Homo sapiens: one gene and its partners. The protein of the gene in region 1 purifies or fractionates together with the protein of each later gene. This does not show direct contact. Each region holds a gene or a part of one and is shown in the gene's direction. Other genes may lie near its edges. The genes, in order: CPNE2, NUP54, USP24 and RABGEF1.

The links.
Region 2: the proteins of CPNE2 (region 1) and NUP54 purify together in Homo sapiens (co-immunoprecipitation; 3 studies listed by BioGRID and IntAct, with this or other methods). This does not show direct contact.
Region 3: the proteins of CPNE2 (region 1) and USP24 purify together in Homo sapiens (co-immunoprecipitation; 3 studies listed by BioGRID and IntAct, with this or other methods). This does not show direct contact.
Region 4: the proteins of CPNE2 (region 1) and RABGEF1 purify together in Homo sapiens (co-immunoprecipitation; 3 studies listed by BioGRID and IntAct, with this or other methods). This does not show direct contact.

The regions. Positions count from the first base shown.
Region 1 is NC_000016.10:57,088,317-57,095,582, forward strand, and holds the start of CPNE2 (copine-2), read left to right. Parts: upstream 1-4,266; 5' UTR 4,267-4,474; intron 4,475-7,266.
Region 2 is NC_000004.12:76,113,349-76,118,318, reverse strand, and holds the end of NUP54 (nucleoporin p54), read left to right. Parts: intron 1-124; coding exon 125-244; intron 245-544; coding exon 545-655; intron 656-2,824; coding exon 2,825-2,953; 3' UTR 2,954-3,655; downstream 3,656-4,970. UniProt on the Homo sapiens protein: Component of the nuclear pore complex, a complex required for the trafficking across the nuclear membrane.
Region 3 is NC_000001.11:55,065,859-55,072,364, reverse strand, and holds the end of USP24 (ubiquitin carboxyl-terminal hydrolase 24), read left to right. Parts: coding exon 1-48; intron 49-440; coding exon 441-551; exon of another isoform or gene 552-806; intron 807-906; exon of another isoform or gene 907-967; intron 968-3,257; coding exon 3,258-3,320; 3' UTR 3,321-6,006; downstream 6,007-6,506. UniProt on the Homo sapiens protein: Ubiquitin-specific protease that regulates cell survival in various contexts through modulating the protein stability of some of its substrates including DDB2, MCL1 or TP53.
Region 4 is NC_000007.14:66,770,796-66,779,531, forward strand, and holds part of RABGEF1 (rab5 GDP/GTP exchange factor), read left to right. Parts: intron 1-1,087; coding exon of another isoform or gene 1,088-1,104; coding exon 1,105-1,283; intron 1,284-2,895; coding exon of another isoform or gene 2,896-3,032; intron 3,033-4,431; coding exon 4,432-4,598; intron 4,599-8,736. UniProt on the Homo sapiens protein: Rab effector protein acting as linker between gamma-adaptin, RAB4A or RAB5A. Involved in endocytic membrane fusion and membrane trafficking of recycling endosomes. Stimulates nucleotide exchange on RAB5A. Can act as a ubiquitin ligase.

The DNA.
Region 1 (7,266 bases):
CTGGAGAAGTCTGGGTATCCTGATCCTAGAAAGGGACCGTCCCTGCATCAGAGTGACCACAACCCTGGAACTTAAAAAATAGCAATTATATGGCCGGGTGTGGTGGCTCATGCCTGTAATCCTAGCACTTTGGGAGGCCGAGGCAGGTGGATCATGAGGTCAGGAGATCGAGACCATCCTGGCCAACACGGTGAAACCCTGTCTCTACTAAAAATACAAAAAATTAGCCGGGTGTGGTGGCGGGCACCTGTAGTCCCAGCTACTCGGGAGGCTGAGGCAGGAGAATGGCGTGAACCCGGGAGGCAGAACTTGCAGTGAGCCGAGATCGTGCCACTGCACTACAGCCTGAGCGACAGAGCGAGACTCCGTCTCAACAACAACAAAAAAATAGCAATTATACACTAGCCCTGCTGTCTACACTTGCCTGGCACGTTACGGTCTCACTGAATTCTGTCTCATTGGATTCTCACAACCATCCCATAAAGCAAATACTAAGTCTATCCTATTTTACAGAGAAGGAGAGCAAGGGCCAGAGGATTGAGTGATTTCACCTAGGCAGCCGCTGAGCGGCTGGGATTCAAACTCATGGCCATGACTCCATGCCTGAGGTTTGACAATGGAGTCAGCCACACCTGCCTCTAACCAGGAGATCCTTGAGGGGATCCCTCAAGGATCCTGATATGTTTCCATATCAACCCCCTGTGGCACATGGTATTTTCTAAAGACAGCCATCACAGTATCTTCCGTCCCACATGCTCTTCCTATTATGTGACGGTGACACCCCTCTGTGACTACAACAGAAGTGACATTATGTGACTCCCAAGGCAAGGGCCTGAAACAGATGATAACGCTTCCACTTGCCTCTCTTGAAATGCTCACTCATGGAACCCTATGCCATGCCACTAGGAAGCCCAGGCTACAAGGAATGGTCTCAGGTAGGTGTTCCAGCTGACAATTCCAGCTGAGGTTCCAGATGACAGCCAGCGTCCAGTGATAGCCATATGTTCAAGAAAGCCTTCTAGACAATTTCAGCCACCACCATGATCTGACTGCAACTGTATGGGAAACACTGTGCAACACCTGCCCTCGATGAGCCCTGAGGACCCCGGAAGTGTGAGGGATAAGTTTTGGGGTGATCTGCGATGCAACATAAATAACTGGAACACCCTCCCTCCGCCAGTCCTCACACACTCCTGGCCCAGCCAGATCCCTGAACAGCTGGCGCTCCTTCAATGTGTCTTTCATTCACGAGCACACTGACATGCATGGGCAAACCTGGGTATTCTGATCCGTTTGTCCAAACAGCCTGGACTGTGAAAATAAACACCCAGATGGCAGGTGTTGACACACATACCCTGACATGGGTCTATTTCGGGGCCTTCAGGCCTCCCACTGTGCACTGAGAGGTCTCCACCTGGGCAGGGAAAGACTTCGTTTAACATTTTGCAGTCTTGTGTTGGGTGTGGAATGAGGATAAAGCATGTAGAATCAACCTGTGATGGATCCTTGGCCTTAATCAACTTCTTCAGGGCTCTCCTGATCCCTGGCCTTTTTTTTAAAGATAGCTTTATGGGGATATAATCCATACACCATGACATTTGTCCTTTTAAAGTGTGTAAGTCAGTGGTTTTAAGAATACCTACAGTTGTGCAATCATCACTATAATCTAACTTTTTTTTTTTTTCATACAGGGTCTTGTTCTGTCACCCCGGCCGGAGTGCAGTGGTGTGATCATGGCTCACCACAGCCTCAACCTCCTAAGCAATCCTCCCACCTCAGCCTCCTAACTGGGACTACAGGCAGGTACCACACCCGGCTAATTTTTTTTTTTTTTTTGGTAGAGATGGTGGGGTCTCACTATGTTGCTCAGGCTGGTCTTGAACTCCTTGCCTCAAGTAATCTGTCTGCCTCGGCCTCCCAAAGTGCTGGGATTACAGGCAGGACCGCACTCTGCCTAGAATCTAACTTTAGAACATTTTTTATCATCTCCCAAAGAAACCCTTTGCCAATAGCAATCACTCCCCATTCTCCACTCCCCGGCCGAGGCAACCACAAATCTGCTTTGTCTGTTTGTGGATTTGTCTATTCTGGACATTTCATCTAAATGGAGCCATGTAATATTTGTCTGAGACTGGCTTCTTTCACTGGGCATAATATTTTCCAAGTTTGTCCATACTGTAGCATGTATCAGTACTTCCCACCTTTCTTTTTTTCCTTTCTTTTTTTTTTTGGAGGGGGGATGGAATCTCCCTCTGTCACCCAGGCTGGAGTACAGTGGCGCAATCTTGGCTGCAACTTCCGCCTCTTGGGCTCAAGTGATTCTCCTTCCTGCCTTCCGAATTGCTGGGATTACAGGTTCTTGCCACTACGCCTGGCTAATTGTTATATTTTTAGTAGAGACAGAGTTTTGCCATGTTGGCCAAGCTGGTCTTGAATTCCCGACCTCAAGTAATCGCCCGCCTTGGCCTCCCAAAGTGCTGGGATTACAGGTGTGAGCCACCACAACTGGCCAGTAATTCGTACCTTTCTATGGCTGTATAATATTCTATGTTGTGTGGATATACCACATTTTGTTTTTCCATTCATCAGTGGATGAACATTTGCGTGGTTTCCACTTTTTGGCTATTATGAATAATGCTGCTACGTACATTTGTGTATGTTTTGTGTGGCCATATGTTTTCATTTCTCCCGGGTAGATATCTAGGAGTGGAATTGCTGTGACCCCTGGCCTTTGTACTCTGCCTCCTTGGCTAGGGATCTAGTATCTTCCTTGACAGGCCCAACTATCTCATCCTTCAGGTTTCTTAAAGGAAGCCTCGCTGACTCCCATGGCTGAGTTGGGTCTTCTGTGCCACCCTACCTCCAATCTTTGCACATTTCATATGGTGATATGATGGCCTGGGTCCTGATCTTGGCCCCCACAGGTGAGCAACTTGAGAGAGACTATCTGCTTTGGTTCACCACTGTCCATCCCAGTGCCTGGCTCTCCTGCTGCTGGAAAGACAAGAGACAGATTCTGAGGCCAGAGCAATCAGGAAAGTCTTCCTGGAGGAAGCGGGGCTGGAGTTGGGTTGATAGGTTGGTTTGCCCCAGAGCGGGGCAGAGGGCTTTGATTGGCTTCGGTGGAAGAAAGGTGAAGAGAGCTTGGAGAAAGGAAAGATGGATGGGTGACAGGCAGGCAGAGAACAAAGCTCAGAGCCCCGGGGGCTGTTTAGTCTCGGCCCCTGTAAGGCTGCAAAGTGCCAGTGACTCAGACGTGGAGGGAGGCTCACAGGCTGCAGCGCGCGAGGCTCCCACATTAACCCTCACCTGCCTGGAATCGAAAAGCCACAATGGAAGCACTCGGCATTAACCCTCAGCTGCCCAGTCCTTGAGCCCCAGGGCCAAGGGCTGTGGACATGGCCTTGAGATCCCCGGGAAAGCCCCGCCCCCCAGAATCTGGTTACGTGAGGCTCAGCCTTCTGATGCCCGGTGGTGAACTTGCCCAGAGAGCACCTAAATACCGCGGAGTGGCCAAAGGCTTGAGCGCCCAGCGACAGACAAGTGTCCTAAGAATTGGTGCCTCTTCTAGGGAAAAGGAGGCCTGGGCTCCAAGGCCTTAAAGACTCGCCTAATTTTCCGCACGGATGAGTAGACCCAGGCCCAGTTCGGATCCGTCTTTATCTTATCGTCTGTGTCAGAGAAATATGTCATATTTCCAATCTCTGGCGGCAAGAAAATGCCGAGCTCTTTTGCTATTGAAAAAAAAAAGGGAAGAAAACACTGCGGCCCTAATCCTGCCCAATACAACCCAGAACCCAGCCTTGGGTGTTGCCCCGAGGGCGCAGCGCCGCTCCCATCGGCGCTGGGGGTCCAAGCGGCCCTGGGGCCCCGCAGGCCCGGGCTGAGGCCACCCCTCTGTTCCCGCGTCGGTGGCCCTGAGCGCACGGCGCTCGGAACTCGGAGGTGCCAGAGGCTCGGGCAAAGCAGGCCTGGGGAGGGCGCGAAGCCGCGTTGTTCCGATCCTCAGCCACCTGAGTCCCAGCCTGGAACCTTCGGACCCTCGCGTTCGGCCCGAACGTTCGGGCCCCCTCGGTGCCAGGCGCCCCGAGTGCCGCGGCGCGCCGGGCGCGGGCTGGGAGCGGCGGACTGCGGGCGGGACAGCGCCCCCGCTCCTCCCGTGGGAGAGCGCGCGCCCCTCCAGGAAGCTCCCGCCTCGCCTCCCACTTCCCTCCCCACTCCCCTCCTCGGCCGGAGGGAGGAGCCCGAGCCGCCGCCGCCGCCGCCGCCCGCCCGCCCGGCCCGGGAGGAGGACCGGACCCCGAGCGGCTGGGAGCGCACGCGAGCGGGCCGTGGCCGCGCGGGCAGCGCCCTGAGCCTGTCCCGCGCCCGCGGGCCCGGCCGAGCAGGAGCAGCTCCCGGGGATGCCCGGGCGGCTCGGAGCGCGGGCAGCGGCAGCCGTGCGGTGAGGGCGGTGGCGCCCGCGGGACCTGCGGTGAGTGGGGCCCGGGCAGGCGGGGCAGCTTGGCGTGAGTGCCCAACTTCGGCCTTGGGGCTGGGCTCTTTGATCCAGCTGCGGGTCCGAAGGAACCCGGGTTCCGCCTCGGGGGGCTGCGGCGCTCTAGCCCCCGCCGCCAGCGCGAACCCGGACTCCGGCGCTTCGGTGACTCAGCTCCGACCCGGCCACGCGGGGGCGCCCCGCCGGCTCCCGGACTGCGGGGAAGGGCGGGCGGGGTCCCTGGGGAGGGGGGCGCCCTCGGGGGTCCGAGCCCAGCTGCTTTGGGGACCCTTCCACCCGCCCCGAGGGGCTTGGAGGGCGTACGGGAGGTGGAGACCCGCCGCTGCCGCAGCTGCTGAAGGCGTGAGGTCGCCCTGGCTCTCGGCGGGCGCTGGCTCCTCTCCGCTCCCCTCTGCCCTCCTCCCACCCCTCAACACCCACCCCCTGCCCCAGGCAACTGCCGGAGGGCCGGCTCCCAGCCCCGGTACTGGGAGCGCAGAGGGGGAGTGGAGCTGGGCAGCTTCCCAGAAGTCGGAGTGTGTTTGCAAACTAGTTTTTGCGAAAAAGCTGTCTGGCACCTGTGTGTTTAAAGGGGGTGTGGGGGTGGGCATGGAGAGAGCGGGCGAACAAGGCCCTCTCTTATTCCCCGTTTCTCACAGCGATGCTCCTCTGAAAATAGAGGGGTCTTACACCCTCTTCCCTGCTCTTCCCACCCCATCCCCCAGCCTCGCTCCACGTCCCCCCGAGTTCAAGAAGCTCTCCTATGGGGAAGGGGCTGCTTCAAAGGGGGCTGTGATTTGCCCAAGGTCACAGATGCTGCTGGCTCTGGTAGCTAATAGGGTGTTCATCTTGCATCTGAATCCCCTGCCCCATATGTACTGGGGGAAGGGACAAGGGGTCTGGAAGAATGATCTTCCAGACAAAACGCCCTTTTTTTTGTCTGCCTTAGTTTTTTGCTCCCTTAGAGGTGTGTGCTGTCATCAAAGGTTGGGGGGCTTTTTCTGCCCCTTGGGCATCCACAGCTTCACGGACTGCAGGGAGCCCATGGTTTTCAGGAAACAGGCGGTGTGCGCAGATTGTAATCCCTGGCAGCTGCAGCCTGCCCTGATGGGGAGGCCTGGGAGACCTGGGTCTGAACCCCACCTATGACCAACAGGGAACTTGGCCCAGACCCTCCCCCCCTGTGGCCCTCTGGGTCACCATCTGTGAAATGGGCTGATGTTCCGGGGCCTGCCTCCTGGAGAATGGACACAGCATGAAGGCGTGGTTTTATGGCATTCCGCCTGGCATAGGTCCAGGTGAGCTCCAGGACCGCCCCAGCCAGCTGGATTGGAAGGGGTCACCCAGGCAGGTTTCTCCATGGAAAGAACCAGGGACGAAGGATGTGGACGCTTGGGTTCGTTTTGCGGCCGTCACTTCCTGTCTGCGTGCCTTGTCACCCCTTGGACTTGGGGGGTTTTCTGTCTGTAAAATGAGGCAAACTGTGACATGATCCAGCTTACAGTAGGGCGGCTGGGAGGCTGGAACTGGGGAACAGGGAGCAGACGTTCTGCAAGTAGGGAGCACTTCATGAGTGGCAAGTGTGGTGTCTCTGGTGGTGTTCCAACGGACACTCCCTCTGGAATGTCATGAGAATTAAAAACTGGGGCATAAGGGAAGAAGATGGCTGAGAATGGAGCCTCGGTTTCTATGTCTGTAAAACAGTAAGTACTGGACCCCATCTGGTCCTCCTCCCAGTCCTCAGTTTTTATATCTATACACCTTCATATTCTTTTCAGGTAATTGTGTATTTCTGCAAAGGTAGGATTAAATTAGATTGCAAGGACTCGGGTGCCAGCACTTATTGGTACGTGGTGAGTGCCTGGTTAACTGTCATTGTCATTATCCATGGGAATATTAAGAAGCCTGATGTGGGTGACTGCATCCAGGATCCTTTGTGGGGTTGTCTCAGGCCAGCTTGCTCCTCCCCCTCCCGTCAGGACTTCTGGGCTGTTCTAGGGGCAGGGGCCTGGGGTGAAAGAAGACCAGGAGAAGTGGTAGGTCTCATCCAGGTGTCCCCATTTCCCCACATCTGGCTGGCCTCACAGGGCTCTAAGGAGTGAACAGAAAACAAAAGAGCACTCTCTAGTAATTTTCTCCCTCCTGTCAGAGCAGGAGGCATCATCGCCAGGCACGGTCCCGATCTGAGAAGCCCTCAGCTCAGGGTCAGGGTGCCCCCAGCCTGATGGAGGTCTCTGTCCCTCTCCCCTCCCCTGAACCTTATTCATAGATGGCACTGGGGCTACCGAATCAGGAGCAAAACACCTTGAGGACCCAGCTCCTTCCCCCTTGCAGAATATGGCCTCAGGGAGTGGAGGTGGGATCTCCCCCAACCCTGCCAGACACGGTGGTGTGGGCTCTGTGGGAGCTGGGATGCCAGGTCACCCTGTGATCTTGGCAGGCAGCATCTAGAAAAGTCCACAATCACACATCTCCCCACCTCCCTGTCCAGAAGGGAGGACATAGGGGTCCCACAGTGCCTGAGGACAGAGCCCAGGTTAGAGGCGCCTCCTGGCTCACATCCCAATGTCTTCTGCCCTCATTGGGCCACTGGACCTCGGCTGTCACTCCCATGGCAGAGTCAAGAAGACTGCTGTTCCATACCCTGGAATATTTCTTTCTTTCTTCCTTTTTTTATTTTTTATTTATTTATTTTTTGAGACAGGATCTTGCTCTGTCACACAGGCCGGAGTGCACTGGTGTGATCTCAGCTCACTGCAACCTCCACCTCCCAGGTTCAGGCGATTCTT
Region 2 (4,970 bases), on another chromosome or scaffold:
AACTGTTGAACCCTACTGTTGTTTGATTTTCAGCTGATTTCTTTCAGTAACTAATTGTACTACTACTACTTGCATAACTAAAAAGAGATGATTCTGTTGTTATTGGTGGTTTTTATTTGTATAGGTCCTAATCAAACAGGAAATTCAAAGGAAGAGTGGTTATGCCATTCAGGCTGATGAAGAGCAGTTGCGAGTTCAGCTGGATACGATTCAGGGTGAACTAAATGCACCTACTCAGTTCAAGGTAACCACTTCTAAGACCATAATTCTAAAATTTGTTTCAGGTGGATCTGCAGACAAAAAGTTATGTAATCTTCAAGCAGGAATTTTGTATACTTGTGTTTCTTATCTCCAATTAGAACTTCCTTTCTAAAGTAAACTCAGTCATGGTTCTTTTGGCTAGTATTAGTGTTTCGAATATAATGTACAGAGAGAGAAATAGAAATTTTTAATAGATGGTTTTGAAACCATCCTTTCAGAAGAAAACATTGTCTTTTACAAGTCTTCGTCGGCAGTTGTAATTTGACTCAGTCTTAACTTTTAGGGCCGACTAAATGAATTGATGTCTCAAATCAGGATGCAGAATCATTTTGGAGCAGTCAGATCTGAAGAAAGGTATTACATAGATGCAGATCTGTTACGAGAAATCAAGCAGGTAAGTGTTGCATGAGGCTGCATTATTTAAAGTGTGAGCTCACCACTTCACACCTATTAGGATGGCTATTATCCTAATAAGAAAAGTGTTAGTGAGAATGTGGAGAAATTGGAACTTTCTTGCACTGTTGGGGGAATGTAAAATGGTTCAGCCTCTATGGAAAACAGTGTAGTGTTTACTCAAAAAATTAAAGATAGAATTACGATATGATCTAGCAGGTCTACTTCTGGATATATACCCAAGTACGTTGGAAGCAGGGACTCAAAACATATTTGTACACCCATGTTCATAGCATCTTTATTCACAATAGTCAAAATGTGGAGATAACCCAAGAATCAATCAAAGAATAGAGAAACAAAATGTAGTATATAGACACACAATGGAATATTATTCAGCCTTGAAAAAAGAATGAAATTCTGACACATGCTACAATGCAATTTGACCTTGAAGAAGTTATGCTTCATGAAATAAGCCACTCATAAAAGGGAAATATTTATGATTTCACTTATGAAAAGTACCTAGTAGTCCAATTAATAGAGAGTAGAAAGGTGGTTGCCAGGGTGTGAGGGGAGGAGGGGATGGGAGGAACTTAACTGGTACAGAATTTCAACTTGAGAAGATGAAAAGTTCTAAACAAAGTGGATAGTGTTGATTATTGCACAACAGCATAAATGTACCTAATGCCACTGAACTGTATACTTAAAAATAGTTACAGGCAAAATTTTATGGTATGCCTGTTTTGCCACTGTTTAAAAAAGTGAATTATCCCTCTCCTCGCCAAAAAGATGAATTTAGAGGTAGTAGAGACACTAAAGTTTCCTAGACCTTGCTCCTTAAAGTGTAGGTAGTAGCCGCACCTGGAAGGTCATTAGAAATGCAAAATTTCAGTCCTTACTCCAGACGTACTCAATCTGCATTTTATCAAGATCATAGAATGATTTGTATGCACTTTAAAGTTTGAGAAGCAACTGCTCTAGATAATACCTTCCCTGCCTATATGTCGCATGTAAGTTATAAACATTTGGTTATTGATCTGTCCCCTAAGCTCTCAGGAGATCTGGATGGAGGTAGGTTGAGGTGGCCAGAACCTCCAACCACTTTTCTAGGGTTTTCACATTGTGTGAAAAAGTTGGGAAACACTGCTTTGGCTTATTTTCATTAGTATAAATGCAGATTGGTTTAATGAAAATGAACAGTTGTATCTAAAGAAAATATATGAAGATGATGAACTTTGTGGAACATACTAGGTAGCTAATGACTGTTGGCATGGCCCTGAGGATTTTAGATAAAGATTATAAATGTCATCAACAAATCCAATTTTATTATGTTAGAATGGATATGGCTGGTTTTATGCAACCAAAAACTACTTTGGCTTCCAGGTTCTTGGATATTACACACATAACCAATTATATTCCATTGTTTTAAGTATTTGCAATAAATTAACAGGTTCCAGTATATTGAAATAAATAGTTGTATTAAATAGAGTTGATATATGCAATAAAACTGGGAATAATTTAAACACCTGTCTTTTTTAAAATTATGAGCAGTGTATTGTTTTGGGATTGAATCATGGTTCACCATCTACTTTATGACCTTGGGCAGGTTATTTACCTGTAGTTTCTTTAACTGTCGAGATGATAATGGTACCCCAAAGGGGGCTCAAAAGGATTTTAAATGAGTTAAGTGAGTGAATACCAGTACTGTTAAAACAGCACCTTAACCCATGAGGAGGAGTCTTAAAAAAATGTTAGCATCTGTAGTCATCACCACCATTATCACTATGTACTTTGTACTTCAAAACATGAATATTCTCAGTTTTCAGAATGTTATTTTGCTAGTCATCTATATTTGAATACCTCCTTTGAGTTCTGTTTTATTATCATGCCTTTATCAAAAGTTGGTAAAAGGAATAGCTATCTAAAAAACATTTTTGTTGGAAGATATTGTTCATTATATATTTGTTTGATTTTATTGTTCTTTAGAGTTTGTCTTTCACTGTTAGCAAAAGATGTAGTACAAATGTTTAAATATGCATGCCCTCTATATTTAGAGCACTTACTAGGTACTGTGTTGCTAGTAAAATAGTCAAAGTGGAGTCTTTTTTCCTGTGACTAGCTTGCAGTTTTAAGAAATTAATACATTAATATGTTGTTTCTTAATTTGTTCTAGCATTTGAAACAACAACAGGAAGGCCTTAGCCATTTGATTAGCATCATTAAAGACGATCTAGAAGATATAAAGCTGGTCGAACATGGATTGAATGAAACCATCCACATCAGAGGTGGTGTCTTTAGTTGACAGTTCACAAACTTGTGTAAAGGTTTGTGAAATGCATCTTCTTACTGCATCAGACCTTCCTTAAGAATGAAACCGACCACATGGAGGGAAAAAGAAAACAATTCTTTCTTGGATTGGTTTTTTGAGAAGTTTACTGACAAATTACTGTTCATCAAATCTGAAATAGTCACCTCACAGCTCTTCAAAGAAAACCTTTGAAAGATTTATATCTAAAAGCTGTATTTACTTTAAAAGAAGTGCATAATTACCAAAATTGTATGTACTATTGTACATTTTTACAACAGCATTTTCTTAAACATAATCTGTGTTTAATGATTATTGTCCATTGAGCCTGTACTCTGCTTTCCATACCAAGTAAATATGAAATAATCTACTTTGCACATAACAGAACAAACTATAATTACTTGGCTGTTGGAGATTTGTACTTGAGTATAAATGTACACCAGTTTTTGTATTTGTGAACTCATCTGTGGGAGGAGTAAAGAAAATCCAAAAGCATTTAATGTTTTGTTTTTGTTCTATAAAGATATGAAAATGTATTTTTATATTATTTTACTTATTTGGAATTTACAGAGCACACCTAAGCAATTAGGATATAACAAAACTACTTAACCATTTTTGCAACCATTTTGTTTTTTAAGCCTTTTTATTTCTAAAAAGATGAAAACTTATAAATAAATTCTTAATTTGTAATTACTTTTATATAATTCTGTCTGGTGCTTTATTTGGCTTTTGAGGAATGACCATTTTTTGTCCACATAGGTACTAAATTCATAATCACAAGTCAGGAATTTTAGTCTTAAGTCTTATTTTTGCCTCCTAGGGATTTTTGTCAGTGCTGTTATATTTTGATTAGGGTATGGCAAGTAAAACTTACTTCAGATATCATCTAGTATTAAGAATTCCCTAATATGTCATTAGTATTCGAAATACTAGAAAATCTGAGTTAAACAGATTAAGTAGTGTTAAATAGTGGGTCTTTAACCAGTGGATCATTTTAAACAGTATTTCTGACTACACTATATTTGGGCTGCATCATGTTGGCCGCTTTTGAGATGCTTTAACTTTGCACTTCTCTGTGATGCTTTGGCTTGTATTGACAGGTGTTAGAAGAAACAGGCCCATGAATCTTGCTATTGTATTTACTATGGGGATGGTGAAGAGTGTGATGCACTGTATATCTATCTGGAGTCCATCCTCTGAGAATCCACTGAAGAGATTTCTCCTCAGTTGTATAGGTTACAGTTGTGTAGACTAGGATTTTTTGTGGGTTTTTTTTTTTTTTTTTTTTTTTGAGACAAGTCTCTCTGTCACCCAGGCTGGGGTACAGTGGCACAATCACGACTCACTGCAGCCTTGACCTCCTGGGTTTAAGCAGTCCTCCCACCTCAGACTCTTGAGTAGCTGGGACTACAGGCATGCACCACCACAACTGGCTATTATTTTTTATTTTGTGTAGAGATGGGGTCTTGTTATGTTGCCCAGGCTGGTCTTGAACTCCTAGACTCCAGCAATCCTCCTACCTTGGCCTGCCAAAGTGCTAGGATTACAGGCCTGAACCTCCATGCCTGGCCAAGACTAGGAACTTTAAAACTGATTGTTTCTTTCCAAATTGACTGCCAGAAGTATGCAGCTACTTTTGCCAAGTTTATGGTGTGTAAATTTGTTACACTACTCTACTACCCTCTCATCATTCTTTCCTACCCATTATATTGCAATACCAACAGTGTTGGGACAGGAATTTCTTGCCTTGTCCACATTTTCTCCGTGGCCCAGAAGATCTGCATGTCCATCATTCTTACCCATGTAGCCAAGTATAGGAGTTTTTGTCCCTCTGCACACCCCCTTATAGTAGGAAGAGTTGTTGGTCTAATTGATGAGAATTGTTACTCACTGAGCTATATAATCTAGTGGATGGATCACTCATCATGCATACCATGGTCGCTTCTCTAGCCTTTGATTTTTCATGTTCTAATATTGCTGGTTGCTAGTTCAACCAGATAAATATACCAGACAG
Region 3 (6,506 bases), on another chromosome or scaffold:
AATGAAACATCAACTGGAAAAACCTTTCAGCGAACCATTTCAGCTCAGGTGAGAGTTGTCTCTTGTTTTTGCGTGGTCTAAATCACTTATGGAGGATTTTCAGTGTGTTTCTCAGAAACTGCAACCTCTGAGAAGAGAGGTATGAGTTGAAGATGAGAACAAGCAGAAGAAACAATTGGATTTCTATGAAAAGAAAACAGATTGGTGTACACTTACACAAATTTGTGCAGATTATTTGTCTAGAAGGAAAGTCATACAGGTTGGGCAGTCTGGTCACAAAAAGGGACAGGGGTTGAGGGGGTTCTGGTGACTGTGATGAAGGCCTCACTCTCAGGCCTCCGGTCCCACTGAAGGTCAGATGAAAGGTAGTCTTCCCTGGCGGTTGCTGCTGCCACTGAATGGGCCCTAACTTTGTCGTCTTGTGTTTGAATCTTCTGCAGGACACGTTAGCGTATGCCACAGCTTTGTTGAATGAAAAAGAGCAATCAGGAAGCAGTAATGGGTCGGAGAGTAGTCCTGCCAATGAGAACGGAGACAGGCATCTACAGCAGGTATAACGGTCAGCATGTCCTTGTGTGCAAAGGGCAGCCTTGCTCTTAAGCTTTCCAAAAAGAATTTCCACAGCTGAGGGAAAACAAGATGCTTCCTCTGGAATGTGAGTCCAAAGAGTTACCAGCGCTGCCCTCTAGTGATCTCAGCTCAGCATATGCACTAACCGTGTGTTTACAGGGCTGAGTAGTGCTGCAGTGTGAAGTGAATGGAAGGCCTCGAGGTGTTTGTGGCTGGCCACCCTGATCAGCCTGCAGGTAGTCCCGATGAAGCCAGGGCACAGGGGGATTCGTTCCAGCTTGTTCACTTTATTCTGCCTTGCCAGGTTACTGAAAGTCCCTCGTTTGCTCTCACCAGCCTTCCTGGAAATGTGGACTCTTGAAAGAAAAGCTCCCGTGCTCTTGAAGTATACCTGCTTGCCAGGGGAGTCCAAGAAAATTTTGACATGTATTTTTAAAAAAAGAAAAAAAAACAGCTTTAATACCAATCATTATAGTAGAAAAAGAAAATAAATATGTATTGAACACCCACTGTGTGCAAACACTGAACTAAGTGTCAGTTAATCATTACGTCTTTCCAATAGTCTGTAACTTTCCTTAACAGCAGTCTCCTCTGTGGTCCCTTCACAGTACTTGGTACAGAATAGGCCCCATTAAATGAATGTTACTGATGTAGTAGGTGTCATTTTTTTTTAAGTGTTATCTTTCGGATCCTCATAAGCACTATGTGAGGCAGCTGTCACCCTGATTTTACAGAAAGGTAACTGCAGCCCAGCACAGTGATGTGACTTAGCCCAAGGTCACTCCACACATTACCTCATCACCTACTTCATTTGCAGAGAAAATAAAAGCTGTCACAGGAGAGCTCCTGCGGCCACTAATTCCCAAGCATCTGCACTGTTCTTGTCTCCTCTCCTGTGACAGTGGGAAGTTTGCCTCTGTCCACCCAAAGCCCCTAGCGCTCATCCCCGCCCACCTTGGCAGAGCTTTGCGTTCTAATGTGTATGTAACTCTTCAATATCCAGAACGCTCCACCCTGCCAGACCCTTCCCAGCGACGTCTCAGCACACTGGTTTCTCTTCTGCCCTGTCAAAGCCTCTCTTCTGCCCTGTCAAAGCCTCTCTTCTCCCTGTTGCCCCTGCCTTCTTTTCTCTTCTTTGCAGCCAAACTTCGACTAATTCTCTAAACTTAACTTTCCCCATTTTCTTATCTCTCACTCGCTCTTCAGCCTCTTCCCTGCTAACTCCCTCTTCTCTCCAACTCAGCAGTTGGGGTGACAGGTGGCCTGCAGCTTTCAGGCCTCATCTTAGCCGACTGCTCGGCAGCATCTAGCGCTCCTGGCGCTCTTCCCGTTTGAAACACTATTCCAGGGCTTTCCTGACACTTCTCTCTCGTAGTTTTCCTCAAACCCTTCTGGCTGTTCCTTCTCTGTCTCCTTCCTAGTACTGCCTCTTCTGGACCACCAGTAAAGGTTTGTGGAGTCTCTAACCTGTATCCTCCTGCCCTCACTCCATATTCTCTCCGCACCCACCTTGGATTTCTGAACATGAACATCCAGCTCTCTTGTTCTTGACGTTCTCCACTTGGCATACCTTAAAGACCTCAGACTCGATGTGCCCAGCCCCTCCTCCCTGCGCCCACCAAAGCTGGCCCTCCGTCAGTGTTCCTTATCTCACACACAGCACCCCCATGTCATCCCGGACAGCTCCCTTTGAAAGGGTGCTCGTCCCTCTCCTCCACCTGTCATCAGCCCCTCTCTGCCTACATCTGTAAGGATCCCCTCACCTCCACCCCTGCTTCTCTCTGGTTCATGCACTAAAACCTTTCAAAGGCTTTGTATGAGGAGAAAAGCCAGAATCCTCAACACAGTCCTGCTTGATCTAGCACCTGCGCACCTCCCCACCCCCATTTTCTGATTTTTTTTTTTTTTTTTTTTTTTTTTTTGAGATGGAGTGTTGCTCTGTCACCCAGGCTGGAGTGCAGTGGTGCAATCTCACCTCACTGCTACCTCCTTCTCCCAGGTTCCAGCGATTCTCCTTGCCTCAGCCTCCCAAGTAGCTGGGATTACAGGCATAAGCGACTGTGCCTGGCCCATTTTCTGAATTTTATTTATCAAATGTACTCTCTTCCTTCCACCTCAGGGCCCCCCTACTCACCCCCAACTCTCACTCAGCTTAGGTTGTCACTTTAGAGAGACTGTCCTTGCTCCTCCCCACCCCAGCTCCAACTAGATCAGCCCCATGGCACACGGTGAGTATTCAGAACGATTCGCCAAGTGTGTAAGCCAAAGGCCACACAGATGGTAACAGAGGTAGCCTTCAGACCCAGGAGTGACCCAGAGCCCATATTTGGCAGGTGCAGGGCAGGGAGGCTCACACAGTGCCCAACGTGAAGCGGGCACAATGGCCATCAATGCCTCTCCCAGCTTTATCACTGCTCTGCGTTCTCACATGGGTGCAGAGTAGCATTGTGACTTTAGACAAGTCGCTGGGTTGTTTCACTGACTAAATGAGATCATAGAAATGTACATGTTTTACATAATCATGAATTGTCAAATATTAGATGTAATAGTTATCACATTTTATTACCCTTTGATAAACATTGCATTAAGTTGCCAGATGAAGACATGTTTAAATTGCAGAACACAAGTCAGCATAGAAAACCTTTTCTCTAACCGTATGAACTTTAACTTCCTTTTCTTTTCTGCAGGGTTCAGAATCTCCCATGATGATTGGTGAGTTGAGAAGTGACCTTGATGATGTTGATCCCTAGAGGAACATGCCCAGCCTGAGAGGAGTCAAGACACAATACTGGATGCTCAGCACCTTCTTGGAATCAGAATCTCGAACCCTTTGGAAGAGCCTGGAGATTGGACTGGGAAAGCTGCTGTGACTTGGGCGGATCGTGTATTTCTCAAGGAAAGCATTTTTAAGCCACTAGAAGGTTTGGGAGCTGTTTGGCAGTGGGAGAACTCCGGCATGTGGATCAGCTGTCCCGGGAGCGTGGTCTATATGTGGATTCACATTTCTGTGGAGATTTTCGGAAATAGAGCCAGTGGCAGACTTTTTTGTTACACGAACATACAAGAGTGAGCATAAAGCTGTTGCTTTCTCTACGATGCTACAAAAGAAATTCCTTTGGTTTTTATATTTTAAGAAAAAGCAAGCTGCTTTTAGATATGTGGGGGCAAATTTTTAATCTTGCAGTAATATTAAACAGGAATATCCAATTTAAAATGATGTAAAGATGTAATAAAATTCCTTTTCATTGTAAAATAGTAATTAAGTCAATTTACACAGACCTTTGTATTTAATATGTCTCCCTATTTGTATAGAATTTCAGATGGGTCTAGATGAGAACCCTATGCATAAGCTTGGATCTTGATGAAAGGTTACCAGGATCAGGATCAAAAATTGGGAAATACTAAGCTCTTGAAGATATTTTTCTGATATAATTAGATTGAAAAGAGCAATTTTGAAAATGCTGTGTTCTCCAGAAGTACAGGGTGCATTATTTGACATCAATTACTTAAAGAAGTTATGAGTTGTTCCCCAAACAGATTTTAAAAACAGCAAAATAAAAGCACTTTAAGATATAATTTTACTGAGTTTAACTTCACAGAATTATCTTTTTAATGCTTGGAGACATATTGAATAAACTGTAGTCTTAAATCATGTGATCTGCAATCGTTTGCTTTTGCTTAAAACATAATTACTGAAACCCTTGGTATTGGTTGTATATGAAGTTAACTATTTGAGTTGGTACACACTGCTTGTGAGTTTCATAGTTATTGTAATGCAGAGAAGGAATTTGAGAATTTGTTTCTCCTCAACATGACTAATTAACACTGAAAAGTCAGTCAAGGTTTAAGATTTATTTTCCCAGAAATAAATATAAAGCAATTGAATAACCATCCATTTAGTCGTATTTCCAAAGTATAGCACCATTCACTCATTTATACCAGCTCCCTTTTATGGTGTGGGGGAGAGGTTTACACCCACATATTTCATATATATTTTGTACATTTTGTATTTTGAATTGCTCACATTTTCGGCCCTGTTTTGCCTTTAGTTACAGGTCCTGCCTTATTTTCATCTCACCATGCACAGAACTAGGGAGCCTTAGGAAGTGCCAGGTTTTCACTGTCAGATTTGCCAAGTCACAGAGGCGCAGCCAGCCCTGAAGTGCCTGTCTGGCTGCTGTGGCATTGTGTGGGCATGTGGCCAGGCAGATGGCATCTCATTACTGTGCTCTCGCCATGGCCCAGTCTTTTCATTCTCTGGCAGTGAGGGTTTCTGTGCTGTCAGACTTCATTGTTATTCTGTGACTTGCTGGAGGTTGGCAGTGGCCTTTGTCAAACACACTGAGAAGATGGAAGGGCCAGCACTTAAGAGCAGAACTGTACCCTTAGAGAAACGGACAGAGGCGAGTGGCAAACTTCAGACGGTTCCAATGGTCTTGCAGTTTGAAATGTGATGTTCTACCATTGGTTTTGAGTACGTGAATACTTCCTGTCCTACTGTTTCCCCTACCCTATTCTCACCTTCTCTCCGCCCACATCCTCACCAAGAGATTGTGTGGGACATGACCTTGAAATGCTGGCGATGATCCACACTGGGATATCATCGCTGGCGACTGCACTCTCAGGAGCCCAAAATCAGGAGTGAAATTGCCACTTCTAGTCCCCTTATTTCCTATGGAAACAACGCCTTCCGCACCCCTAGCACCTGCCGTCCTCACTGTAAAGCTTCATCAGGATCGTCCACCGTGTATATTATACGCTTCAGATCATGTTGCTTATATTGTTGCTGCAATGACCATCGTTTTCACTTTGCTGGTAACCACTTGATTGCTGACAGCTACAGTCAATGAACCTGCTGATGACTTTTTTTAATGTAGTACAACAGTGACAGTTATGACAGGCTTACCTTGGAAGAGTTGTCATTTTTACTGCCAATTTTTTGGATGAAGATGTTTTTATAAACCTTTCAAAATGGTCTGCAAACAGAGCAGGAATTGCACAATTAACTCAATAATGCTGTGTGTTCTCAAGAAGCTCCCTTAGTGAGGCCGATCTTAAGATGGCCGATTCTGCCCGTTGAAGGCATCCTGGGAAAGAAAACAAGCATCCCAGCGGGCATCTCACCACGACTTCTCCTGGAGTCCTCACACGGTCACTGACAACTACAGTCAGTTTTAGGAACTAGAGTGCCGTATCATCAGACTTACCCTGTCCTGCCCCACCTTCCCTGCTAACATCGAGGTGTGTGCAGTTACCTTCTGAGCTTGGAACAAGCAGACTGGAATTTTCCTCTGCTACCTCTTGTGTATAAAATCTTGTTTATAAAATTTCAAAAGGAAGTAGATACACTAGGGAAGAACCTTAATTCTAAATTTGGTTCATGTGTGGCAAAGTTCTTAGCTTCTAAGAGTATAAAATAAATTTTTCAAAAACAGAGTTGGAGTCTTGCCGCCATTCTTCATATATCAGAACACAGCCGTAGTGGGCGGGGGAACACGAGCCTGTGCCTGGTGCTAAATGCTGTTGATTCCTCTTAGTACTTTACACTAATAAAGGGGACTGTGGGTCCTCTGAGCCTGTTGCTGTTCTTTTCTCTGGAGGGGCTGACCATTTCAGGATTCATCTGCAAAGCTTAGAGGAGGATGCTGAACTTAGGTTGATGGTCTCCATTCATCTCCACCAAAGCTTTTGGCTCTCCCAAGTGGTCCCCAGCATAGATCGTGTCGCTGGTCACACTGGGCTTCTTGCTAGATCCCACAGGTCTCAGTCTCATTCCTAGTGGCCAGCGTTGCTCACATGGGTCCCCTTCCCTATTTGCTAGTCCAGATTTTCGCCTTCCTGCAAGCCACACCCCTTCCTCCCCGATCCCTGGTGACCACCTGCTAACCCTCTGCAAGAACCAAGTTGTTCCAACATCACAGAGCTGTCAGGGTGTG
Region 4 (8,736 bases), on another chromosome or scaffold:
TTTTTACAGTAGCCATCCTAATGGGTGTAAAGTGATATCTCATTGTGATTTTGATTTGCATTTCCCTGATGATTAGTGATGTTGAGCATTTTTCACATTTGTTGGCTGTTGGTATGTCTTTGGAGAATTGTTTATTGAAGTCCTTTTCCCATTTGTTAATCGGATTATTTGGGTTTGTTGTTGTTGTTGTTGTTGTTGTTATTGAGTTGTAGGAGTTCCTTCGTATTTTAGATATTAACCCCTTATTAGATATATGGTTTGCAGATAAGTTCTCCCATTCTGTGTGTTGTTCCTTTTTACCCTGTCAGTTGGTTCCTGTGTTTTGCAGATATTTAATTTTTAAAAATTTTTTATTTCTTTTGAGACAGAGTCTTGCTCTGTCACCCAGCCTGGAGTGCAGTGGCGTGATCTTGGCTCACTGCAGGCTCTGCCTCCCAGGTTCACGTGATTCTCCTGCCTCAGCCTCCTGAATAGCTGGGACTACAGGCGCCCGCCACCACGCCTGGCTAATTTTTTTGTATTTTTAGTAGAGACAGGGTTTCACCGTGTTAGCCAGGATACTCTCAATCTCCTGATTTTGTTATCCGCCCTCCTCAGCCTCCCAAAGGGCTGGGATTACAGGTGTGAGCCACCACACCGGCCTGTGCAGACATTTTAAAGTTTGATATAATGTATTTGTCTGATTTTGCTTTTGTTGCCTGTGCTTTTGGTGTCATATCCTAGAAGTCATTGCAAAATCCAGTGTCGGGAAGCTTTTCCCCTAAGTTTTTTTTCTAGGAGTTTTCTAGTTTGCAGCCTTTACATTTAGGTCTTTAATCTAATGTGAGTCCTTTCTTAATTTTTTATTTTTTATTTTTTATTTTGGGCAGGGAATAAGTCTTTCTTTAATATGGCTGTGTCAGGAATTTACTATATTTAACATTCTTTTTTCTTCCTTCCTCCTCTTTCTCCCTCCCTCCTTCATTCCCTCCATCCCTCTCTTAACAGCTTGAAGATAATGGAATCACTCACTTTTTGTTCATAATTGGTAAGATTTTATTTAGTAGAATGATAATTCATTTTCAACAGCACTTTCTTGTTTGTTCAGTGGTTAGCAGGAAGAAGATGAGCCTTAAGTCTGAACGCCGAGGAATTCATGTGGATCAATCGGATCTCCTGTGCAAGAAAGGATGTGGTTACTACGGCAACCCTGCCTGGCAGGGTTTCTGCTCCAAGTGCTGGAGGGAAGAGTACCACAAAGCCAGGCAGAAGCAGATTCAGGAGGACTGGGAGCTGGCGGAGCGGTAAAAGGACTTAACTAGGGGCGGTTGAACAGTGACGTGACTGGATACATAGTTCTGTCACCGTCTAAATACATTTTTTCACTTCTGCTTTGAGCTATCAGCAAGTCAGTTTAATATTAAGGAAAAGGATGTTTTCCTCTCTTCTTCTCAGTCAGCTTTTAATGAACAGCTTTCAGTAGTTTCTTCATTTTGTGTTTGTCTTCTGATTATTTTCTTTGGGTTGTGTTAGTTTTAGTTCTCAAATGTAGACAATAAGCTCCTTGGAGTGGAAGAATGGAGATAGGCATATTTCCTGGTGAAGATTAAATGAGCTAATAAATTTGACGTACCCACTGCAGGGCTTGGAAATGGCACTCATCAAGCATTATTTCCCTCATTCTTTTAATATATATTTAGCATGGCATCTAGCTCAGTGATAAAACACAGTAGTAGAAATCTGTTGACTTGTATACATAGTCATTGCATTGTAGAAATTTAACTTATATTTAAAAATTAGGTTAGCATTTGGTATTATCCGGAAATATAATGATGTTAAAAATTAAACGATGGGCCGGGCGCAGTGGCTCACGCCTGTAATCCTAGCACTTTGGGAGGGTGAGGCAGGAGGATCATCTGAGGTCAGGAGTTCGAGACCAGCCTGACCAACATGGTGAAACCCCCTCTCTACTAAAAATATTAAAAAAGTTAGCCGGGCATGGTGGTACGCATTTGTTATCCCAGCTACTTGGGAGACTGAGGCAGGAGAATTGCTTGAACCCAGGTATCGGAGGTTGCAGTGAGCTGAGATCATGCCACTGCACTCCAGCTTGGGAGACAGAGTGAGACTCTGTCTCAAAAAAAAATAAATAAATAAATAAATAAATGATGGGATGGCTAGTGAGCATAGGAACTAATAAAATGCCATGAATAATGTTAATTCTTTGCCAGAGCATTCTAGAATTCTAAAACTGCTTCAACAGAAGAAAGTCAAATGGAATTCTGCCAACTCCTCTAGCTAGTTGTTTGTTTTTTTTTTTTCATCCAGTCAGCCAATATTTGTTGAGTGACTCCTTTGCTGTCATTTGTAGTGAACTCAGAGAATTAGAAATTACACATTGCTTTCAGTGACTGTGTTCAATCAAAGAGAGAAAATTTTAGCCGAGAACATGAATGATCTCCTCAGGGTTTCCACTGCATGCCTGATGCTGTCAGTAGCAGATCCTGTTTCAAAAACAGAGTAGAGGCCACTAGGCACAAACTCCCTCAGCTTCCTCCCCTCACCACATAAAAATGTCCTAGTACCTTTATATTAACTTCTTGTCTGTCCCAGAGAAAGAGGGGTCCCGATTCCACCCTCAGACTTAGCACCTCCACCTGTGATTTTTGTTTCTATTTCTTACTGCTTTTAATTGTGACCCTGCTAAATCTCTCGGAAAGCTTGTAAAAGCAGTGATTGCTGGACCTTACCCACAGAGTCTCTGATTTTAGTGGCTTGGGAGTAAGACTAGAGAATTTGCATTTCTGACAAGTTGCCTGGTGATGCTGCGCTGCTGTCTGGGGAATCATACTTGGAAAATCATTGTCTTTTAGATAGTGCTTGTGCTTTTTGTTTGTTTGTTTGTTTTTGAGACAGGGTCTTGCTCTGTTACCCTGGCTGGAGTGCAATGGTGCAATTTCAACTTACTGCAACCTCTGCTTCCTGGGCTCAAGTGATCCTCCTGCTTCAGCCTCCCAAGTAGCTAGGACTACAGAAGTATGCCACCATGCCCAGCTAAGTTTTGTATTTTATGTAGAGACAGGGTTTCACCATGTTGCCCAGGCTGGTCTCAAATTCCTGAGCTCAAGTGATCCGGCCGCCTTGGCCTCCCAGTGTGCTGGGATTACAGGCGTGAGCCACTGCACCTGGCCTGTGTTTGGGAATTAATACAGGTGGTTCACATGCAGCTAATCCAAAGCCAAATTTATTGCTTTTATTTATTATTCTCCGCATTCTGAACATTTTCCTCCTAACCCTTCTCCTGAGTCAATTAATGGCATCACTACTTACCAAGTTAGCTAAAAAACCTTGGTTTCATTCTTGATTTCTCTTTTATCTCCCATGCTAGCTACAACTTGACCAAGTTCTATTTCTTCCAACTCAGAAAAGTCTTTTGAATTTTACCTTTTGTACTCCTATTTTCCAGGTGCTTATTTTCTTTTACTTAAACCTTTATAATATACTCTTACTTCTTGTTCCTGTCTCTAGTTTCTCTACCCTTCAAGTTGTTCACACAGCTACCTGCATGATCTTTCTAAAGTACAGATCTGACAGCGATAACTCCTTGGATTTACAGTCTTTCTTGCTTCCCTACCACATGATGAAATCCAGAATAGTGGGCTCAGCAATCAAGATTCCCTACCCTCTGGAGCCTTCCTGTATATCCAGCATCACAGTTCATCACACGCCCAGTGCTCTGGCTACATTCAGCTTGTTGTGAAGCAAACCACAGGCTTGCACATTTGTAGTTCCTTCTTTCTGGAATGTCCTTTCACTTAGAATCCTATTCAGCCTTATTAGTCAGGTGTGGTGGTGTGCGCCTGTAGTCCCAATAACTTGGGAGGCTGAGGGATGAGAATTGCTTGAACTCGGGAGGCAGAGGTTGTAGTGAGCTGATACCATGCTATTACACTCCAGCCTGGGCGATGGAGTGACACTCTGTCTCAAAAACAACCAAAAAAAGGATCCTATTTATCCTTTAAGACCTCACCCAAACATCACCGTTGTAAAGCCTCGTCAGACTCCCCCAGCAGATTGAGTTGTTCTTTCCTGTGTTCTCACAGCACTCAACTTTTACTCTCTGATGTAGCAGCTGTCCCATTCTGTAGCAGTTGTTTACTTACCTTTTTGTCTGTTCCAGCCTTGAGCTTGTTAGGGAAAAGGATTAGACTTGATTTCTTTCATGTAACCCTAGAGCAGTAGCTGAATGAGTATGAGAAGACCCCATTTGAAATCTGTAGTGCATGAAGAGCCGTCCATCCTGTAGCAATGTGAGACCTCAGACTGATTTGGCATATTTAGTCTCTAGGTCTAAAATCTTTAGATCCTCCTGAATTAATGGAGTAATAACCTTCACATACAGAGAAACCTTGGAGAATATCTAGGTCATTCTAATCCTCTCTTGAATTGCAGACTCCAGCGGGAGGAAGAAGAGGCCTTTGCCAGCAGTCAGAGCAGCCAAGGGGCCCAATCCCTCACATTCTCCAAGTTTGAAGAAAAGAAAACCAACGAGAAGACCCGCAAGGTTACCACAGTGAAGAAATTCTTCAGTGCATCTTCCAGGGTCGGATCAAAGAAGGGTAATGTTCTGATACTCTTTTTTTTCTTCTCTGCCTGAGTGAGACACAGAGGAGATCCCCAATGCTCATAAGCTCAGCTTTGTAATTTCTGTCAACTTTTTGAGAACATCAGCTCAGATTTGACACTGAAATTGGGCTTGAGGGTCAGACAGTATATGAAATCAATACTCTCTTTGGTTGAAAGACATTGTGTTTTAGAGAAATTTGTTTATAGGAGGAATCAAGAGAATTGAAATAGGTACTTTTGCTTATGAAATTCATCCCCATCCAAATGACTATCTCTTTGGATGTTTTGGTTTTTGTGCCTTTATTTGTGGATCCTGGTTTGTTCTGTGGTATAATACCCTCACTGTTCATAGCTTGTCAGAAATGGTGATTTCTAGGCTTGATAGTCATCTGAGAGAGAGATTTTCTGCCTGAGAGCTTATTTGAGAGACAGCTTGTGTCTTGAGGAAGTGTATTGAGAACATATAGGAAAAGGCCCAAGTTGGGCTCTTGGGGGGATGAAAGTGAGCCATAGTAGCTATTTTCCAGTGCATGGATTTGTATGTAGGTGATCATATTCACCCTGCTTTTTAAAATGCCATATAACCAGCAAGAGGATTGTCACTTAAGTCACAGTTGTTCTACCATTGAGCAGACTAGCTAGTTGAAGTGGCCCAACATGAAGCAAGAAAGACTCTTTGTTGTTAGGCCTCAGTCTGTCTTTGAAAATTTATGTTGGTACTCAGAGTTATGCAGTCAAAGCGAAATAATGAGGGAGACTGGGAACCAACACTGATGCTGTCAGAAGACCTGTTCTCTGGGAGCCCCCTCACTTGCTCCCCAGTTCCTACCCTGGGGTAATTGTAATGAGGTCTCCCCTGAAGGCCGGGGAATGAATAATAAGACAGTGTTACTTCTTAAGATACTTGCTGGTCTTCTAGGTTTTGTGACTTTTGCTGTTTCCTTTTGTTTTATTAAAAGGAAATATTGCTCATAACCAAAAACACACCTCTCTTTAAGACATGGATACCAGACCTGGTGCGGTAGCTCAAGCCTGTAATCTCAGCGCTTTGGGAGGCCAAGACAGATGGATTACCTGAGCTCAGGAGTTTGAGACCAGTCTGGGCAACATGGTGAAACCCCGCCTCTACAAAAAATAGAAAAATCATCCAGGCACAGTGGCATGTGCCTGTAGTTCCAGCTGAGGCCAGAAGGCTGAGGCAGGAGAATCATTTGAATCTAGGAGGAGGAGGTTGCAGTGAGCCGAAATCGTGCCATTGCACTCCAGCCTGGGTGACAGAGCAAGACCCTGTCTAAAAAAAGGAAAGAAAAGAAAAAAGATTGATTACATGATTAATTTGAAGTTGTTTCTTGGTTGGCTGCCAGTTGTAGCAATTTTATCTCTACGAAAAAGGGGGGAAAAATTAGTACCTGCCAGAGATTAAATAAGAATGTATTGGGCTCATGATTTATTTATTAGGAGGTGGAATAGCCAGGTAGTAAGGTGACTTTGGAGTCACTCCTGGTTTGAGCCCTAGCTTTGTATTTACCAGCTTTGTGACCTTGGACAGACTAACCTCTCCGAGTCCTGTCCACACTGAGGGACAATAATACCTACCAGAGGCACGTGATGAGGATTCAGTGAGTTAATGCATGTAAAGAGCTTAGCACAGTGCCTGACACACACAGTAGATCTCCAGTAAGTGTTAGCTGTTTTAAAATGCAAGTTATTCTTCTGATAGAATTATCTTGCAGGGAGCACAAGGGCATTTGCTATGAAGAATACTCATTCCTATTTAGCTTAAGGTCTGTTTCTTGATGATATGTAGTGAAATGATAAGTATTTATGATAACAGATGAAATAGTAAAACAAGTATAAAATTATCAGCTCCAATAGCCTCATTTTGCAGAGGACAGTGTGAAAGTCCATAAAGGTTAACTAATTTACCCAAGGTTGCACAATGAGTTTGTGCATGAGAACTCATGTCTCCTAATTCCTGGGTCAATATTTTTCCATTATATTCCTTTATCCAATGTGTATACTTCAGAAGCCCAGGTTATTTAATATATATCATAAATAATATATATATATGAAATTAAGTTTCTGTTACTTAAGTACATAATTGTCATTTATATTTGCTAACTCTCCTTGGTGGTTTTAAAAACCTGTGTCCCAAAAGCCTCTGTACAGTGTGCATTATACTATTGAAAGAAAATTTACAATTCAATGCAGAGTCTGTACTTTAAAAAGAAACATTTCTGGAGCTGGGTGCAGTGGCTTCTACCTACCTATAATCCCAGCTACTTGGAAGACTAAGGTAGGAGGATTACATGAGCCCAGGAGTTAGTGGCTGCAGTGAGCTCTGATTGTGCCACTGCACTCCAGCCTAGGCAGCAGAGTGAGACACCAACATTAAAAAAATTAATTAATTAATAAAGAATCCAGGTGAATTTTGTTTTAAAAATATGTATGCAGAATGATTTTTACCTTTGTTCTTGTCTCCCCTCATCCCCCATCTTTTTGAATGATAGATTTGTACTTTAGATTGTTTGTTCTTTAGTTGCTTTTTGTCTGTAGAAAGCTTTGGGGATAAAGACCTTAAAGTATTTTAAAAATTCATGTTAGAAAAGAAGATTCCATTGTATCTTTGTTTCACAGATCACTTAATATAACTTAGCCAGGTAAATTTTGCATTTCACACTGATTACTTTTGTTTGGCCATTGTGTTTGGATAAGATTAGCCTAAGTGCCGTTTTAATGTATTAGGTCTAGACTAGAAACAGACTTTTTGGATTCTGTATTCTTGAATCTTCCTTAGTCCATGATACCCTTGCTGTTGGTGTTTTACTTGCTTCTGTTAGTAGCATAAAGGAAAGTTTTTATGCCATACGTAGCAGCTTGGTAGCAGACAAAATACAAATAACCTTCTAAGGAATTTGAAGAATATCTTCACATTCTTTTAGAGTTGGATACGCCTTCAGAGAAAGTAAATGGAATGTCTTGACTGTAAAGACTCAGTTAAAGTGTTTTAGTCTCTACAGTCAGGGTGAGTGAGCTGTATAGAGGAAGTCATAGTGGTTGACCAAGCTGAGATACTTGCTTATACATTCCAAAGTGCCCTTTTCTTTCAGAACTCCTATAATGTTGTCATTCCAAGTAGAATCTTGTGTACCTCTTTCATGAACGGATCTGAAGACGGTGATTCTCTAAAGCATATCTTTTCATTTTTAGAGTTAAAATACCAATACCACCCAGACCTTAGAAAGTAAACCTATTATTCATTAAAGTGAATCAGGGCTTCTTGGAGAAGTGACTGATTCTGGGGCTAGAGTAGGGAAAAAAGGGCCCCTTCAATATTTTGGGGACATTTCAGAAGATCCAGAAGCCAGCTTGGAGGGGTTTCCACTGGCCAAGTCTGGGATAATTTGAATGTCAAAATAAATAAGGACAATAAGGCCAGGCACGGTGGCTCAGGCCTATAATCCCAGCACTTTGGGAGACCAAGGCAGGCAGATCACCTAAGGTTGGGAGTTTGAGACCAGCCTGACCAACGTGGCACAACCCCGTCTCTACTAAGAATACCAAATTAGTCAGGTGTGGAAGTGTGCGCCTGTAATCCCAGCTACTTGGGAGTCAGAGTCAGGAGAATCGCTTGAACCCGGGGAGTGGAGGTTGCAGTGAGCTGAGATCGTGCCACTCCAGCCTGGGCAACAAAGTGAGACTCCGTCTTAAAAAATAAATAAAATAAAATGAAGAAATCTATAAATAAGGACAATAAATGAAGTATAACTGATTGAACAAAAATCATAATCCGTGTGTTAATTTAGTAAAATAGAGAAATACGGCTGGCACAGGGGCTCACGCTTATGATCCCAGCACTTTGGGAGGCCGAGGCAGGTGGATCACCTAAGGTCGGGAGTTCGAGACCAGACTGGCCAACATGGTGAAACCCTGTCTCTACTAAAAATACAAAAATTAGCTGGGGGTGGTGGCACGTGCCTGCAATCCCAGCTGCTTGGGAGGCTGAGGCAGGAGAACTGTTTGAACCTGGGAGGTGGAGATTGCAGTGAGCCAAGATCGTGCCATTGCACTCCAGCCTGGGCAACAATGTGAGGCCCCCATCTTTAAAAAAAGAAAAAAAAATTAAAAAAT